Linked DNA regions of Homo sapiens: all the other regions are reported to be linked to region 1. Evidence: microRNA targets listed by miRTarBase, many of them from high-throughput screens and not tested one by one. Region 1 holds a microRNA gene; each other region holds the end of a gene's coding sequence.

Region 1 (5,075 bases):
TGGATCACTGGATAGGAGATGCGAGTTTGTTAGTTTCTAAGGCACATCCCAAAACGATCATCTTTATTAAGCAAACATTATCCCTCTGCCCCCAGGCTATCAAACAGACCTTTATCTCTACAAATGTTTCTTAGCTACATAAGATACTTCCTGAATAAACTTAGAGGACATCAAATACTCTCATTTAGAGTATTAATGAATGTATTGCTGCCGCCTCTCTATCATAGAATTTGGAACAAGTGAACAATTCTAAACTTTTCAACTGCTACGTGTTTCAGAAGAACCAAGACAGGTGAGCTTGTTTTAGGCACTGAAAATCTTTGCAGTTGGGTCCATGTGATGGTGGATGAAAACATCTCCCCAAACACGCCAAGAAGTTTTCCTTTGAACTCCTTTGAGGGGAAATGAAGTTTGCATTTATCTTGACAGAAGGGGATGAAGTTAAGTATATAGATTTAGCATTTACAACTACCAGTGAGGAAAGCTCTTGGCATCCAAGATTTAGTACATAGAAGAAAATGTCAATTAAAATGGAAATTGCTCCTTGCCAGAAACACCCACTCACACTTAGGCTGCTACTAGCAATATTAATACTAGAGAGCCATATGAGCTTGAAATACACTTAAGAATAAATTTGTAGCTATAAAAGTTAAACTCATTTAATAGTCTTTCTGATTCCCTAAAAAGAAAGCAGCTTGGGAGAATTATCCGAGAAACTACTCTGGCTACTGCTGATGAAAAAACTCAAGCCAAAGAACAAACCTGGCTGGGCACGGTGGCTCACACCTGTAATCCTAGCACTTTGGGAGGCCAAGGCAGGTGGATCACCTGAGGTCAGGGGTTTGAGACCAGCCTGGCTAACAGGGCAAAACCCCGTCTCTACTAAAAATACAAAAATTAGCCAGGCGTTGTGGTGCCTGCCTGTAATCCCAGCTATTCAGGAGGCTGAGGCAGGAGAATCACCTGAACCCAGGAGGCGTTTGCAGTGAGCCAAGATCATGCCACTGCACTTCCAGCCTGGGCGACAGTGAGATTCCATCTCAAAACAAAACAAAACAAAACAAAAAACCTGGGAAAGACTTCTCATATTCAAGAGCTGTTCAGGAACTACTCTGAATATCATGCTCCAACCATTACTAATCTGTTCACTTTAACTCAACATACAGGAGTTCTGAATCTGTTTTGTATCATGGATCCTTCCGGCAATCTGATGAAACCATGTGCCTCTTTTCATCATCATATTTTTAAACACGTAAAATTAAATTCAGAGAAATACAAAGAAAACTAGCATATCAAATAGTCTCTCTGTAGACTCGCTGGAGCTCTGAAGCCCCAGGTTAAGAACCCTTACTATACAAGCTATGATCTTGTCTATTCAGGCCCCAAACATAATTTATCCCATTTATTCCATCTCCAAATAGGATAGCCCTACTTTCCCTCAAATAGTACCAGATTGTTGATTATTTTATTAACTTTTCCTTGGTCTTTCAATCTAGGTATAAATTGGTTATTGACCAAACTATAAGTCTAACTCAGGATCCTTGGTTATTAATGTTCACACAGAACCTGCCTTATAGTACTAGTACAGAAGCAGAGCCAGTGGGACAGGTCTTCTGACAGGTCTTAGGTCAGAACACAAGTCTCTAGCAGACTAAAACATGGTTGTATTTAGTCCTCTTCTTTTGGGATAGCTGGGGGATATCCCAACTTTTAACTGGTTTATCAACAAACTCACACAAGCCACCTTGTACAAACATTATGTAAAGTGTTCATCTTGGAGGATAGAGCAACATTCTATAGCTGTTTTTTTACTGAGTTTGGGATCTGCCTATATTCATCTTATGATGTTTTCAAGCTAAAACTCTTCTGGCAAGTCTACATGAAATGCAACAGGGGCCCTTGAGCACCCATTCACCTATTACCTTAGAACACAGTCAGAATAATTTTCTCAAACCCTTGGTCCAGAATGGGCTCTCCCATGATTAAAGGTAAGAGGACTTCACCTCGATGCTCTTGATAGGCTTCCAGAAAAGGCATTCACCCTTACCCTAGCTCAACTGTTTGTCAGGCCCAACGATTGTTCCCAAACCTTACATGTTAGAGCTGCAGAAAAAGTGCATTTGTACTTTTCCTGCACAATTAGCTTATTTTTATCTCATGGACATTTTGATTGTATTCATGAAAAGTTCTTATATAAAACAGCTATAAGAAAGATTAAAATAAAAATTAAGTCATTATCTTTCTTTTGCCTCATTTTAAATTTACACCGTACTGTTGAATTTTTATTTACTTTAAGCCATCAAGTTTTTTTTTTTTTTGTAACCAGATCAGAAACAAATATTTAACCCTATTTTCTGGCATGCAACCTTAATTCTTAAGACTGCTAAAGTTAGAACAAACTTAAAAATAGTCCAGCCCCATCACTAGCAATTTATAGATCAAAAACTGAAGCCCAGGAAGGAAGAGTATCTTCATCAAGATCACAACGCTAGGCAGTAGCAGAACTAGAACTCCAGAACAGGTCTTCTCAATCCAAAGCCTGTGATGATGTCCAGCTACCAACAGAGCACCATACACTATAAAATCAAAGCCAATTTCTTGTTCTTCTAAGCTCCTCCCATTCCCAACCAAATTCTTGGTCATTTTTTCATTATGCCGTCTCTAAATCGTGGACATTTAACAAAACCACCTCCAAGCTAAGACAAATAGATCTCAAAATAGAATATGAAAACAGCATAAAATCACAAAAATATAACTAAGTTTGCTTGTTTGTTGAAGGTAAAATTTCCTCTTCATATTCTTAGAGGGAGAGACCATAATGTACTTCCCTAGCATAGCATGATTAAAGAGACATTACTAACAGTAAATCAAATGTAAATTACGTTACATTTCACATAAATCTGATAGTTTTCCTTTTTTAGACAAAAATACAATATGATTGACACAAAAGGACAAATACTATGATTCCACTTATATGAGGTATCTAAAATAGTCAAATTCATAGAGACAAAGGAAAATGCTGGTTACCAGGGGCTGAAAGAAGGTGGGGCATGGGGAGTTACTGTTTAACAGGTACAGAGTTTCAGTTCAGGAAGATGAAAACAAGTTCTGGAAATGGATGGTGGTGATGGCTGTGCAACAGTGTGAATGTACTTAATGCCACTGAACTGTACACTTAAGATGGCAAATTTTGTTATATATGCTTTATCACAATTTTAAAAATAGAAAAAATATACTATAATTAGAAATTTGTATTTCTGTGGATAAAAGGAAGAATGGATAAAAGCGGCACAAAAGTTGTCTTAAAAGCAACATAAAAGACACATTAACTTGAAACAGTTCCTACTCTGGTAATAAAATCCACTCACATGTACCTCCAAATAGTCCAAAACAGAGTATTCCTTCCCATCCCCACGGTGAGACATAACAGCATTCAAAACCCACTCTATACTTGGAGATGTGCCGTAGACCAAAGTGTGCCGGCCATGCTGGGTGGAGAAGGTGGTGAAGGGTGAAGAGCTCTTACCTCCCACTGCCCTCTCTACCCGGCACAGCCCCCAGAGCACAGATTCCAGAAGGATTTCGGTGTTGGGCCAGGGACTGCAAGTGTGACAGAGCCTCTGGTGGTCCTGCTAGGTAAAAGCATGAAAACATTTCTGTGAGGTCAGAAGACACTGGAGACTGCAGAAGGGAACTTTTCTGTCTTTTTGCCATGAAAAAGCACTAGTATAAGCAGAAAATAGACAGCTGGATTTAAATGTAAAACAAAGCAAAGACCTTTTCACCCTGCTTCACGAATTTTAGAGCAATTTATAGTTCAACTTCATTTCAGGTCTTCAAAATGAATATGGGCAAAGTAATGCTGTAAAAGACCACCCACTACGTTGAATACCTTTGTTGGTGCTGCCTTAGGATTTTTTTTTTTCTGTGCAGTATAATCCTGAGTATCATAACATTTACAAAGCATTTTCAAATATGTTATTTCTATCTGATGAGAACCACAGAATATCACAGCAGGAAGGAATAATTTAGTCCATCTTTAGATAACAGATGAGTGATTTAAGACTGAAAGAATACACAAGATTCCATAGCTGGTTGGAAGCAGAGACAAGACCAGAACCCAGCATTCCAAACAACTCTCCAACCTCGTAAGATTCTGAGAGGTCTCAGGACCTTTATCCTACATGAGCAAGAATAAACAGAACAGGTGATTTCTTGTGTTTTGTTGTATCTACTGGAAATCTCTCTTACATATAAATAAGCATCTTAGTAAAAATGTCTGGATAACCTAAGGAGAATTTTGGGCGTAGGGAGAGGTAAAAGATAAGAGGAGACAGATAAACCAGGTTGTTCATAATTTAATATTCCTGCTGTCACAGATTTTATAGCTTAGTGAATGCTGGTACACTGAGATACTTCTATCCCAGCAGTGTATTAATATTTATTATTTGATTATTTCTGGTACCTTGTGATTCTCACTAGATTTCAGGAAAACACTAGCACTGGGCATACAAAGGCTTTTACATGTGACTCAATCATTCCCCTTATATACCCCCGTACCCATTTCAAAACGACTTTCATTCTAGTTTAGAGCTAGCTAGCTTTGCTTTCTCTACCAAGTGTAAATAAATATTCATGTTATTACATATACTGTTATCTGTCACAGGGTTTTATCTTTAATTTGGTGTATCTTTCAATTTTCACTGCATAAATAAATGCAGTAAAATAAATGAAATGAATGTTTGGACATCCTAGGTTTCTTGTTGTCTTAATTTTGTATAAAACTAAATACTCTGTATCCAAAGTGTAGGAATGTTATGTGACCCAACAGTTTTCAATAATTTTCTTGGTGGAAGGCACTTTAAGTCATGTACAAATGGTACTTCTTATTGGCAAAAAATAGATCACTCACTAGTGATTTTGAGCTTATTTGTGCACTGAAGTTGCTTATTTTCAATATTTGTGTTGACTTTAAAAAAAAACAAAAAAAAAACAGACTCACTCTGTCGCCCAGGCTGGAATTCAGTGGTGCGATCTCGGCTCACTGCAACCTCTGCCTCCCAGGTTCAAGCGAT
Region 2 (5,075 bases), not on the chromosome of region 1:
GCTACTCGGGAGGCTGAGGTAGGAGAATTGCTTGAACCCAGGAGGCAGAGGTTGTAGTGAGCCAATATCACGCCATTGCACTCCAGCCTGGGCAACAAGAGCGAAACTCCATCTCAAAAAATAAAATAATAAATAAAATATAAAATACAGTTCCAGATAAATGGATCTTTTGTGTGTGGTGTGTAAGTATATCCCCAATGTTGCGTGGGCTAGACTTATACTAAAAGAATTCTGTGTTAACCAGAACTCCAGTTTCACTGGGCATCCTGTACTGTGTCTGGAAGCCTCCCTCAGAGACAAAGTCACTTGCCATGGGTCACCCAGCAGGTTGTTAGAGCCTGGGATGGGGAAACTGAGGTCACAGGGTTGCAGGAGGTGGGGGGTGAGCGTGGGAAGAGGTAAACCATGTCTGCAGCAGAGTCTGACCCCTCGACTTCTCTCCCTTTTTCTCTCTCCCTCTTTCTGTCGCCACTGGGCCACTCAGTCCTGGTATCTGGGATAGCAAAGGTCTTCTTCCCTCGCCCCTTCTCCATCGTCCCAGGAATCCCAGGGGGCAGCACAGCCGGCCCCCGGCCCACGTTTTCGGTGGAAAATTAGAGTGAACAAGAACACCCCTGCCGACTCCCAGCCCGGCCAAAAAGACAAAACACATAGACGCACACACTCAGGAGGAAAAGAAAAAACAAAGGCAGAAGAAGAAGAAGAAGAAATAAAAACCCACCCAAGCAAGAAGACAAAAGGTAAAGACGCAACGTTTCCAACTCTCGGGACGCCAAGGCCGCAGGACTGGAGGGCCAGGCCCCGCCACCCCCACGGGAGACCCGGGACAGGGCGTCTTCCTAAGTTATTCATCTCCTCTCCGCCTGCTGCTCGGGAAGGACAGACGCCGGCCGCCCGCCCGCGCCCCGGAGGCCCTGGCTCTGTCCGGAGACCAGGTGAGCACAGCCTGGAGCCTGTGCCCAGGGCCGACAGGCGCGACACCCAGCAAGGCCACCTCTCCCCGGGCCCCCGCGCCTCTGCCGGACACGGACCGGCCCCTCAGCCCCCACCGAGGACGCAGCCACTGGGGGGAAAGGGAGACACAGCGGACCCCGGCCGGGCAGCGGAGACCGCAGAGGCGGGCAGGGTGGGGCAGGCGAGTGGTGTCGCGGGGGTGCGTGGCGCTTGCGAGCCCTGGCCAGGGGAGGAAGTGAGGCCCAGGCACCTGCTGCCCCTCGAGGGGGCCCTGCCTGCCGCGGGGCCTCCCCACAAGCCCCTCCCAAAGCGCCGGCCGACTCGCTGTCTCGCTGGGGACTCTTTCAGCCCTCGCGCCCGCCCGTTTGGGAGGAGAAGTCTCTATGCAATTGGCCCCGGCCCCTCCACCCCCCACCCCCGGCATAGGAGGCCCCCCCACCTCGCCCGGCTCACACCCCCAAAGGGAGGGACCCACATTGCACACACTGTAAGAAATGCACTTTCCGAGGAAGGGGATGGGGGAGCCCGGACACCCAGAGCTCCCCGAGTTGGGGGTGCCCGTCTGGAGCGCCCCCGTCAGCCCCTGGCGGTGGGAGGTGAGAGCGAGTGGTTTAAGTGCCTGATTACCACCACCCGCCCCCCCCTTTGTCCAGCTGGGACACGGAATGGCCGCGGGCCTCCTCCCCCTCCCCTCCAGCCTCTCCACCAGCCCCTCCAGTCAACCCTCATCGCCGTGCCCCCCCAGAGCTAGAGAGATGGGGCCCCTGCGTGGCCCGAGGGGCAGAGCTGGGCGTCACTTCGCAAGCGTCCTGCCCTGCCGGGGCGCGGGGGTGGGCTCTGGGGAAGCCGGTGCGCCCCCCACGCCTCCGCTGCCAGTGCCTTACATTCTGGAGCGACCCCCCTCCCTGGTGCCTCCCAGCGAAGGGGGACCGCCGTTTGCACTTTCATCGCCTACCCCGACGCGGGGCCCAGCTGCGGGACGTGCATCACGGCTGGGCCCCCAGAGGAGAGAGGAGGCCGACGCCAGCGGTCCCCGCTCGGAACGGGGAGGGTTTTCGGGGGGTTCGGCGTCGCACCTTGGGGCCCCCCGCAGCCGTGTAGGGGGCCTCCCATCTGCTAAGCGTTTTTCCGTTGAGCCGCTCCAAAAACACTAAGCTGGGGACGCCAGGTGCCCCCCCACCCCGGCTCCCTGGCCCTATCCACACCTCCACCCCCACCCCAGGATCGCCATCTTTAGGGGAGGCCTGGGAGGGGGTGTTAGGTGTTTTAGGGCCACCGAGCTCAAACACAAGGACCCCTCCCCGGCCCACCCAGCCCAGCCCCAACTGACCTCCATGCCTAGGGAAAAACTCCCCCCACCACTGCCCCCTCCCCCGACCCAGGCCAAAGCCAGGGCAGGTCTCCGGGTCTCACCTGCTCCTAGCCTCACCCCCCTGCCCCCGAAAACCAGACTCTCCTCCCAAACTAGCCTCAGGAGCTTGGCGAACCCGCTCGCTCCTAAAGAGAAAGACCCAGGACCCTCCCCCATCACCCCCAAGAGAGGTTCGCCATCCTCTGGCCTCGAGCCCTTGGTCCCTCCGTCCGTCTGTCCTCGGGGCCCGCTCCCCCGGTGGCCCTTGGGGATCAAAGCGTGGGCCGCTCTCCGGGAGGGCGGGCGGGGGAGGGGGTGGTCGGGTTGTGCCATTGGGGTGTCCGGAAGCTTCTCAGCCAGGGTGGGGGTCGTGGAGTGGGGGAGGGAGGCCAGCCGGGCTCCAGAGGGGTCAGGGCGCGACGAGAACCAACTCTTTACCTAACTTTGCATGGTGCTTAGTCAAGGACTCCTGCGACCTGGCTCCCGAGGTCAGCTGGCGGCGCTGACACACATGCATGGCAGACTATCCCTGGCTCTATCTCCCTGTTCCTCGCCCCCTCCACCCCCCACTTCCTCTTTAAAAAAAAAAAAAAAAAAAAAAAGATACAAGAAAAACCTTTAAAAAAATTCCATGTTTCCTAATTTGCACGAAATTTTCTACCACAAGATGTGCCTTGCCTTCCGAGAATAAGTATTACCTTTAAACAATATCAGCGCACACACATAGCTGCATGTTCTGCTCGTGTAGTTTAAAAAAAAAAAGACAAAACAGTGACATGAAATAAAAAATAAAAATTGAAAAGGGATGTATTTCTATTTGTAAAAAAAATAAAATAAAAAATAAGAAAGTGAGAATCTAAAAAAAAAAAAAAAAAAAAAAAAGGAAGAAAAACCACGCTAAAAATCAAGCCACTGAAAACAATTGCCCCCAGGTCTACCCAGCCCCTGGCTGTCCTTGGTCCTGTCTCCCCTCCTGCTGTATTCAGGGGTGCCCCCTGGTGCTCAGCCTCTACCACCCCCAACCCTGCTCTTGGGTACCCAGAGGGGTCATTTCTGAATCCCTTGCCCAGAGGACAGACCTCCGGGGCCCATCTTGGCCCTGGGAAAGGGCTCTCCTCTCTGATTGGTCCCTAGGCCACGGGCCGGCCCCCAGACACCATTCACCGACCCACTGCAGGCTGTCCTCCAACCATGGGGTGGCCACTCCACCCGCAGCCAGACTCCCCGCTCCCCACTTTTCATGCAGGCTGGCATACCCCTGGCTCAGGGTCAAATGCTGTTCCACACCCACCTCAGAGGCACCCCCTCTCCCCTGCCCCGTGCATCCCCACCCTTCTTGCCAAAGGACCTCTTTTCCCCTATCCAGAGACCACCCCAGGTGGCATTCTCTCCCACCTTCTCCTTTGTCCCCCATCCCCTGTCTCTGTCTTCCAGCTGTGAATATGAAGGGTATCCTGTATGAAACAAAAACAAAACCTGATATATGCAATATCTGTCTGTCTGTCTGTACCCATGGGCCTGGCTCAGCCATTGGAGGCCCAGCCGAGGGTCCGGCAGGGCACAGGGACAGCCAGGTGGCACCGAGTCACAGGCTGTGGTCCGGTGGCTGAGCATGCTGTTGTCTTGTCCTTGATTTTATTTTCTTTTGTTCTTTTTTTTTTTCTTTTCTTTTTGTTTTTAACTCCAGCTTCCTTTGCTTTTTACTTGACCAAAGCTAAGACAATAGCCAGATGGTTAGTGGGGCAGCCAGGCAGGGAGGACCCAGGGCTGGGATTCTCCAACCTTAGGCCATTCCTGCAGCCCTCACCACCTCCAGCCCCTCCAAGCATCTCGTGTAGGGACCCACGCAGATGGTCCCATTCATTCACTATTGCCCCCAACCCCGGGATTTTGGGTGGTCTCCACAGCCACCATCATACACTCATCCCGTGTTTTCTTCCAAAAAGTCACCTCAGCAGCCTCCCCAGGCGATACAGAGGGAGAGCCCAGACCACCACAGCTGGCCACGACATTGCCCTTAAGTAATATGCATTGGCCAGAGAGCCCGGGCTGGCTGTGCACAGCATTCATGTAGCTGATTTCTAGCTTTTTTTTTTTTTCTGCCCCACTCCTGAGCAAATCTGTCTTGCCAAGGAACTAGGAGCAACCGGAGGCAAAGGGAGTGGGTGGCCCCATCACTATTGGGACCATCGCGTCCCTGCACAGCCCACACCCGGGGGCCCAGAGTCCTGGGCTGGACGCCACCCTTCTCACCCCGAGCTTGCCTCCTTGGCTCACTTGGCACCTTGGCTGAGTACAGCAGGCAAAAGCCCATACCAGGCAGCATGTTGTGGATGGTTTAGTTCTCCCCGCCTCCCTGTTTCTTGGAAAAGCTACAGGGTCCCTGTAGGGCAAAATTCCCAGGCGCCTTGCTGCAGACAGAGTAAGACAAAAACACCAGGAAGCAGGATTCCGTGCCCATCTCTGCAGTTTGGGTTCACAAAAGGGGGTGCCGTCATCCCTGGGTGGAGGAGGGAGTGTTGGTTTTTTGTTTTTGTTTTTTTAACATGTATGAAACTGACATCTTCTCAAATCTTGTTCCACCCCCCTCTGGAAGCCCCCATCACCCACCCCTGCTATGGACACCACACCTATGCCAGGCCCCCCCCCCCACCCCAGTCTCATTCTGGGGTCTGCCCATGCTGTGGGAAAGAATAGGGAGGCCTCCCAAATATATGCAAATTGTCCCCATTCCGTGGGGGCACCTGACAATGACCCGGGTGGAGATGGG
Region 3 (5,075 bases), not on the chromosome of region 1:
AATCTTAATGCCTGTTGTTTCTTTCATCTCTCCTGCACTTTTCTGGAAGGCAGGGTTCAAAGCTGAGTTAGTAAGGATGAATTATTAAGGCTTTGGAAAGCACTGGGCTTGAAGCTGAAGGCAGCTATTCCTTAGAATTGAGGACCAGTGAGCGAAGGTTGAACATTTTTCATTCAGCTCCAGGAATTAGAAGGTGTCTTTGAACTTTTTAAGGCCTAGCTTGGGGACAATAGCCATCAGATAAAAGGCATGAATGCTTATACCAGGGCTTCTGTGGTCTGTTCCAGATGAGTATGTGGCCAGCCTACACCTGCCTACCTTTGATGCCCACTTGACAGAGCTGACAGATGAACAGGCCAAGTATCTGGGACTCAACAAGAATGGGCCCTTCAAGCCTAATTACTACAGGTGCCTTGGGCTCCCCAGAAATCAGGGACACCTGGGCAGTGATGAGCTTCCTGCACTGGAATTGGTCTTTGCATCCCCAACCACATATGCTTACATGAACTCAGAAAAATGAACCCACTTCCCCTCACTGCCACCTTCAAAAGACTCTTCAAGGCCTTAAATAGTATTCCCCTTCCTGAATTTGCCTTTTGGAGATAGAGAGGTGGAGTTTGGGTAAGTGGCTATTTGCCTCATTAAATAAAGTTCCCCTTCCTCAATTCCTTTCCCCATTTCATCTTGTTGCTATGATTTTTATCTCTTTATGGAGAAATATTGGCCTTTTTCAATGATGTGAAAAGGAAACACAGTTATTTCCTGTCACTGTACACTCCAGAAAAGTCTCTGCCTCCCTGTTACACCTTTAGGCAGGCTCTTCATGTCCCAGCATCCCCATTAGCTGATAACATCACAGTCTCATCTTTCTTTTTCCCTCCAGGTATTAAGTTCCTGTAACTCAAACCAGAATTTTTAAGGAATAGAACTCCAAGCCTTTTCTCCACTACTATACAAGAAAGAATTCAGCAAGCTGCTTCTCCAATCAAAGCTGCCTGCCGTGCTCACCCTGTGTGTTAGGTTATTTATTTATTAAAATCAAGAATCCTGTGCCTGTAGTGTTGGCCCAGAGTGTGGTTACTGCCCTGAGGGCCATGAAAGCCACAGAGGATGGGCTGAGGAAGGAAAGAAATGGGGTTACTGCTCCCAGTGCATCATTTGCATCATTCCCCATTGACTGAATCCTCAGCAGTGGCCGTTTTTCCTCTTGTCCAGGCTCACGAGTTAGTCCAGGGATTCCATACTCCCTATTCCCTGGAGTTTTCTGGAATAAATTTTCAGCACCTGCTTTTCTCAGCTTGGCCCTTCCCCGGGTGAGGCCGTTTGGAATTAACATGGCCAGTGTTTCACACAAGATTGGGTTCCCAATCTTGACCATCACTATCACTGCCTTCTTTATATAAAGGCTAATAAGGAAGGAGTGTTATTTATGGCTTTGCCAAGCTACATCAAGAACTCAGCTGTGCTGTGCCTACCAGGGGTCTCCTTTCTTACCCAGGACTCCTTTCTTCTCCTTGAATATTTATGTCCATTTTAACACTTCCTGGTTGCAAGAGGGATGTGCCTCCATTATTTCCTCCACAGTTTTGGTATTTGTCAGACATTTGTTCTGCTGTCTTTCTAATCCAGCCAACGTCTGCTCAGGAAGTGGGGCCAGCTCCACTGGGACCCATAGTTTTACTTCCTTGTCATTTGATTGGATAGTTTCCAAGGAAGCCCCTCCAGATTGGCACTATCTCAGAAAAGGAGAGCTTGTTGTGAAACACTGCTTCCTGAAACTTCCTGCTATTGCCTAAAGCTACGTCTGAAACTGAGTAGGGAAAGGCATACTTTTCCAGGGACTTAGGGGGATAGGCTTTGGAAATGGGACAGGTCTTTCAGACTCACAGCTTGATACCCTAACAAAGCAGAGTATATTTATTTGTTTCCCAGGAAGGCCATTGCAGTTTGACTGGCTGAGGGATACAGAGATGAAATTGTAAACTGTATCCAGATTATCAAAGCTAATTTGACTAGTTTGAACCTCGTCAGACATTCATTCCTTTGGCCATTGCCATGGATGAAACCGAGATCTGCAGTCTGATCTGTGGACTTCTCTGCTGGCATATCTTTTATGATTTAACCTCTTCCATTTGATGATTCTGTATTTCAGAGTCAGTTTCTTGAGTAACTCCAGTGCTACAAAAAGAATTAGTAATGTGGTGTGGGCAGCGTGACATTTTATGTCCCACCCAAAAATTGGATTCCTTTTGGAGACTGATCTGTTGGTCTCAGGCATTTCATTAGGACCAGATTGGTTCTAAGAGTTAGTCTGGACTGGCCCTAGGAAACTTGAATTAAATAAGCCTCTTCCCCTTACCGATCCTTTTTAACACTCTCAGGTTTGTTTGTTTCCCACTTTTTTCCTATGCTGGTCTGCCTCAAAGTCTCAAGACCAAGGTGACTCAAGATAACACCAGACCACGCATGATCACCAAAACCTTCCCATCCTGATTCTCTTCTTCTACCTCTACCCTCTCCAACTTCTCCTGGTCTTCACATATACTCTCAAAGCTAGTCTGAAAGTGACCTTACTTTCGGAAGTAGGGAAGTGGAACTTTGGTAAATGACTGTTTGCCTCATTTAATAGTATACAGGCTCAGCCCATAGACTACAGTTCTTCAGAGGCCATATGTCTCAGCAAGTACTGGTTATATTCTTTTTTTGTAAGGAAGATCATAAATGCTAAAAATTCCACTAAGCCATTCAGTTCTTCCTTTTGCCTACCTAGTCCTGATTTTTGTATTAATTGGTTCCCTTTAGCAAGGGATTCAGATCTTTGTACCTTATCTTATATCCAGAGCAGATTCCATTTGGCAGATAGATGGTCTCTAGCCTATTGTATTCTTAGACCAAAAATCATAACCTGCTGTTTCTCAGCAAAGCCTTGCTCTCTGGAGCTTACTATGTGCTGGTACTTAAAGAGTACATTCTGCCTTGCTGTAGTGAAGAGACCCACTCCAAATAAAAAAGGGGCCACACGGGGCTTCTAAGTTAGGTTGCCAGTGTTGCTGCCCATGATGAGTTATTTGCCTCTGAGTTTCAGATGACCTCTCTGTAGGGACACTGTGTTATCAACCATTAAGAAGAAAGAACCACAAGCCTCCCAAGTATTTGGGTTCTATCTTAGGGTTGAAATCTGGTCATTATTCCCTCTACCCTTGGAATCAGAGCAATGTGTCTTCTTTCCTCCAACCTCTTACCTTAGATGCATCCTGGTTATCTGGAAGCATGGGAAAGAAGGCTACTTATCTCTTTGTATGTGGCTCCAGTCTGTGAGGATACATAACATTTTCTCTACAATGAATCTGTGCTAATATTTTGCCTTCTTTCTTTCTTTTCTTTTCACCCTTAGAGACAGGGTTTCACTATGTTGCCCAGGCTGGTCTCAAACTCCTGGGCTCAAGCAATCCTCCTGCCTCAGCTTCCTGAGTAGCTGGAACCACAGGTGTGTGCTACCGTGCCTGGCACTTTTTTGCCTTCTTAATGGAGATATTCAGTTTTCTTTTTTTCATTTAAACAAAGAAAAAAAATGTATCTACTCTACCTTCCCTCTGCTCTCCTCCCTCCCTATCCTACTTGCCCATATGAGCACGGCTCCCCATGGCCACATACTCCTGCAAAGCTTTTATGCTGCTTCGCTTTTCTCTAAACAGATCTGATATTGCTGCTCCTGTGGTTTTCTCAAAATTAACTTTGCCGTGGTTTTTAAAAAGGAATCAAAATGCATTGTTGCATTAAGCTTTTTCAATAAAGGAAAATTACGGAAGGAAAATAGGCAACACCAGCAAATTATATGTGGACAGGTTCTAAACTCTATATATACATATATATATATATATCTATATATCTATATACGTAATCATCTAGTTCTGTCATCTTACTGAAAGGAATAACACTTCTAAAGATCACCATTTCTGAGAAGTTCTTGGAAATCTTTATGTCTAAGTGATTGTATTAGATCAGCAATAATGACTATGTAATCTCAAAAAACAAATAAAATATTCTTAACATGGACTCTTAAGGGTATTTCTTGTTTCTGTGAACTAGAAATTCAGAGATGAGAGAGATCTCTGGGCAACAAACTAGAGATCCTGCTGTAGGGCAAGGATGTGAAAATGTTACCAATGGGCATGTTTGACCTTAGGATGTGAAAATGTTACCAATAGGCATGTTTGACCTTAGTTAATAAATATCATGTTCCCCTCCTACCAGCCAGCATACACGCGCATCCTGGCTGTGTGTGTAAAGAACCTGTCTTCTCAGAACCACCACCCTGGGGAGTCGAGGACTGTAGGCTTAACTCAGAGAAACTAAACCATAGTTCTAGGTCCCTGACTCCCTTTTAGTTGAAAAATGCAGGAAATCAGCATCCCCCAGTTTGGGACCAAAGGACCTTGATAACTAGGACCTGATTATATCCAGCCAAAGGGAAGAAAGAAGTGCATCAGGCAGAGATTTGTCTCTAAATCAAGTTGCCTGATTTAACCAAAGGATAATCCAATTGCCTATTCTTTCTCAACTGCCAGTAGGGTAACCATCTTTGGGTAGCTTTCTGATAGCCACCTTCTTTAGTTGACTACCTAAACTAGTTCTGCATCCTGTATGCAAGATGTTTTCTTTTCATAGCAGAATCTTCTGCCACTTTGGCTTCTGATTATTTAGATTAAGGGACACAGGGCTAGAATCGTCTGGGCAGTCAGTAATCCTCAAAATTAGTGCCATTCCAGTTAAGAGGAGGAGAATGCAGCAGCTAGCAATGAAGCCGGTCAGCTCAAAGGATTTGCTCCCCTGCAGTAGGGCTTGACTCCTCATTTGTGAAGGATGGAACCTTGGGTGCCTGGGTCTTTATTTCAGAATCATAGGGTAAGCCCAAGCTATCCACTGCTGCACAAGTTTCTCCACCTCACAATATTGTGCAAAAAAACTTGAACTTTAAAGCAGGCTAGCTTGGGTTTGAATCCCAGCTCTGCCATTTACAAGTTATGTAACTTAGTCAAATTACATAACCACTCACAGCCTCAATTTTCTTGCCT

The links. Region 1 holds the annotated microRNA hsa-miR-197-5p (CGGGUAGAGAGGGCAGUGGGAGG, at 3,526-3,548, opposite strand). A microRNA usually pairs through its seed, bases 2 to 8, with sites in the 3' UTR of a target mRNA and lowers its output. Matches are read on the target gene's strand: a 7mer-m8 pairs with bases 2 to 8, a 7mer-A1 pairs with bases 2 to 7 and ends in A, and an 8mer does both.
Region 2: miRTarBase lists NFIC as a target of hsa-miR-197-5p. Seed matches in the 3' UTR shown: 8mer at 3,239-3,246.
Region 3: the mRNA of AHCYL2 is a reported target of hsa-miR-197-5p. Seed matches in the 3' UTR shown: 7mer-m8 at 2,509-2,515 and 7mer-m8 at 3,194-3,200.

Annotation. Positions count from the first base shown.
Region 1 is chr1:109,597,374-109,602,448 of GRCh38, reverse strand. It overlaps MIR197 (microRNA 197), which reads right to left and starts at 3,556; the gene lies at 3,482-3,556. GNAI3 (G protein subunit alpha i3) reads right to left here. Exons shown (of 9, transcript NM_006496.4): 9 at 2,254-5,075.
Region 2 is chr19:3,462,268-3,467,342 of GRCh38, forward strand. NFIC (nuclear factor I C) reads left to right here. Exons shown (of 11, transcript NM_001245002.2): 11 at 485-5,075. The coding sequence ends at 502. Among named protein-coding and RNA genes, the nearest start is that of SMIM24, 16 kb to the right of the region's middle. RefSeq lists enhancers at 272-807, 808-1,343, 2,925-3,425, 3,426-3,926 and a silencer at 1,795-1,995.
Region 3 is chr7:129,426,156-129,431,230 of GRCh38, forward strand. AHCYL2 (adenosylhomocysteinase like 2) reads left to right here. Exons shown (of 17, transcript NM_015328.4): 16 at 288-408; 17 at 884-4,056. The coding sequence ends at 890. Among named protein-coding and RNA genes, the nearest start is that of STRIP2, 5.7 kb to the right of the region's middle.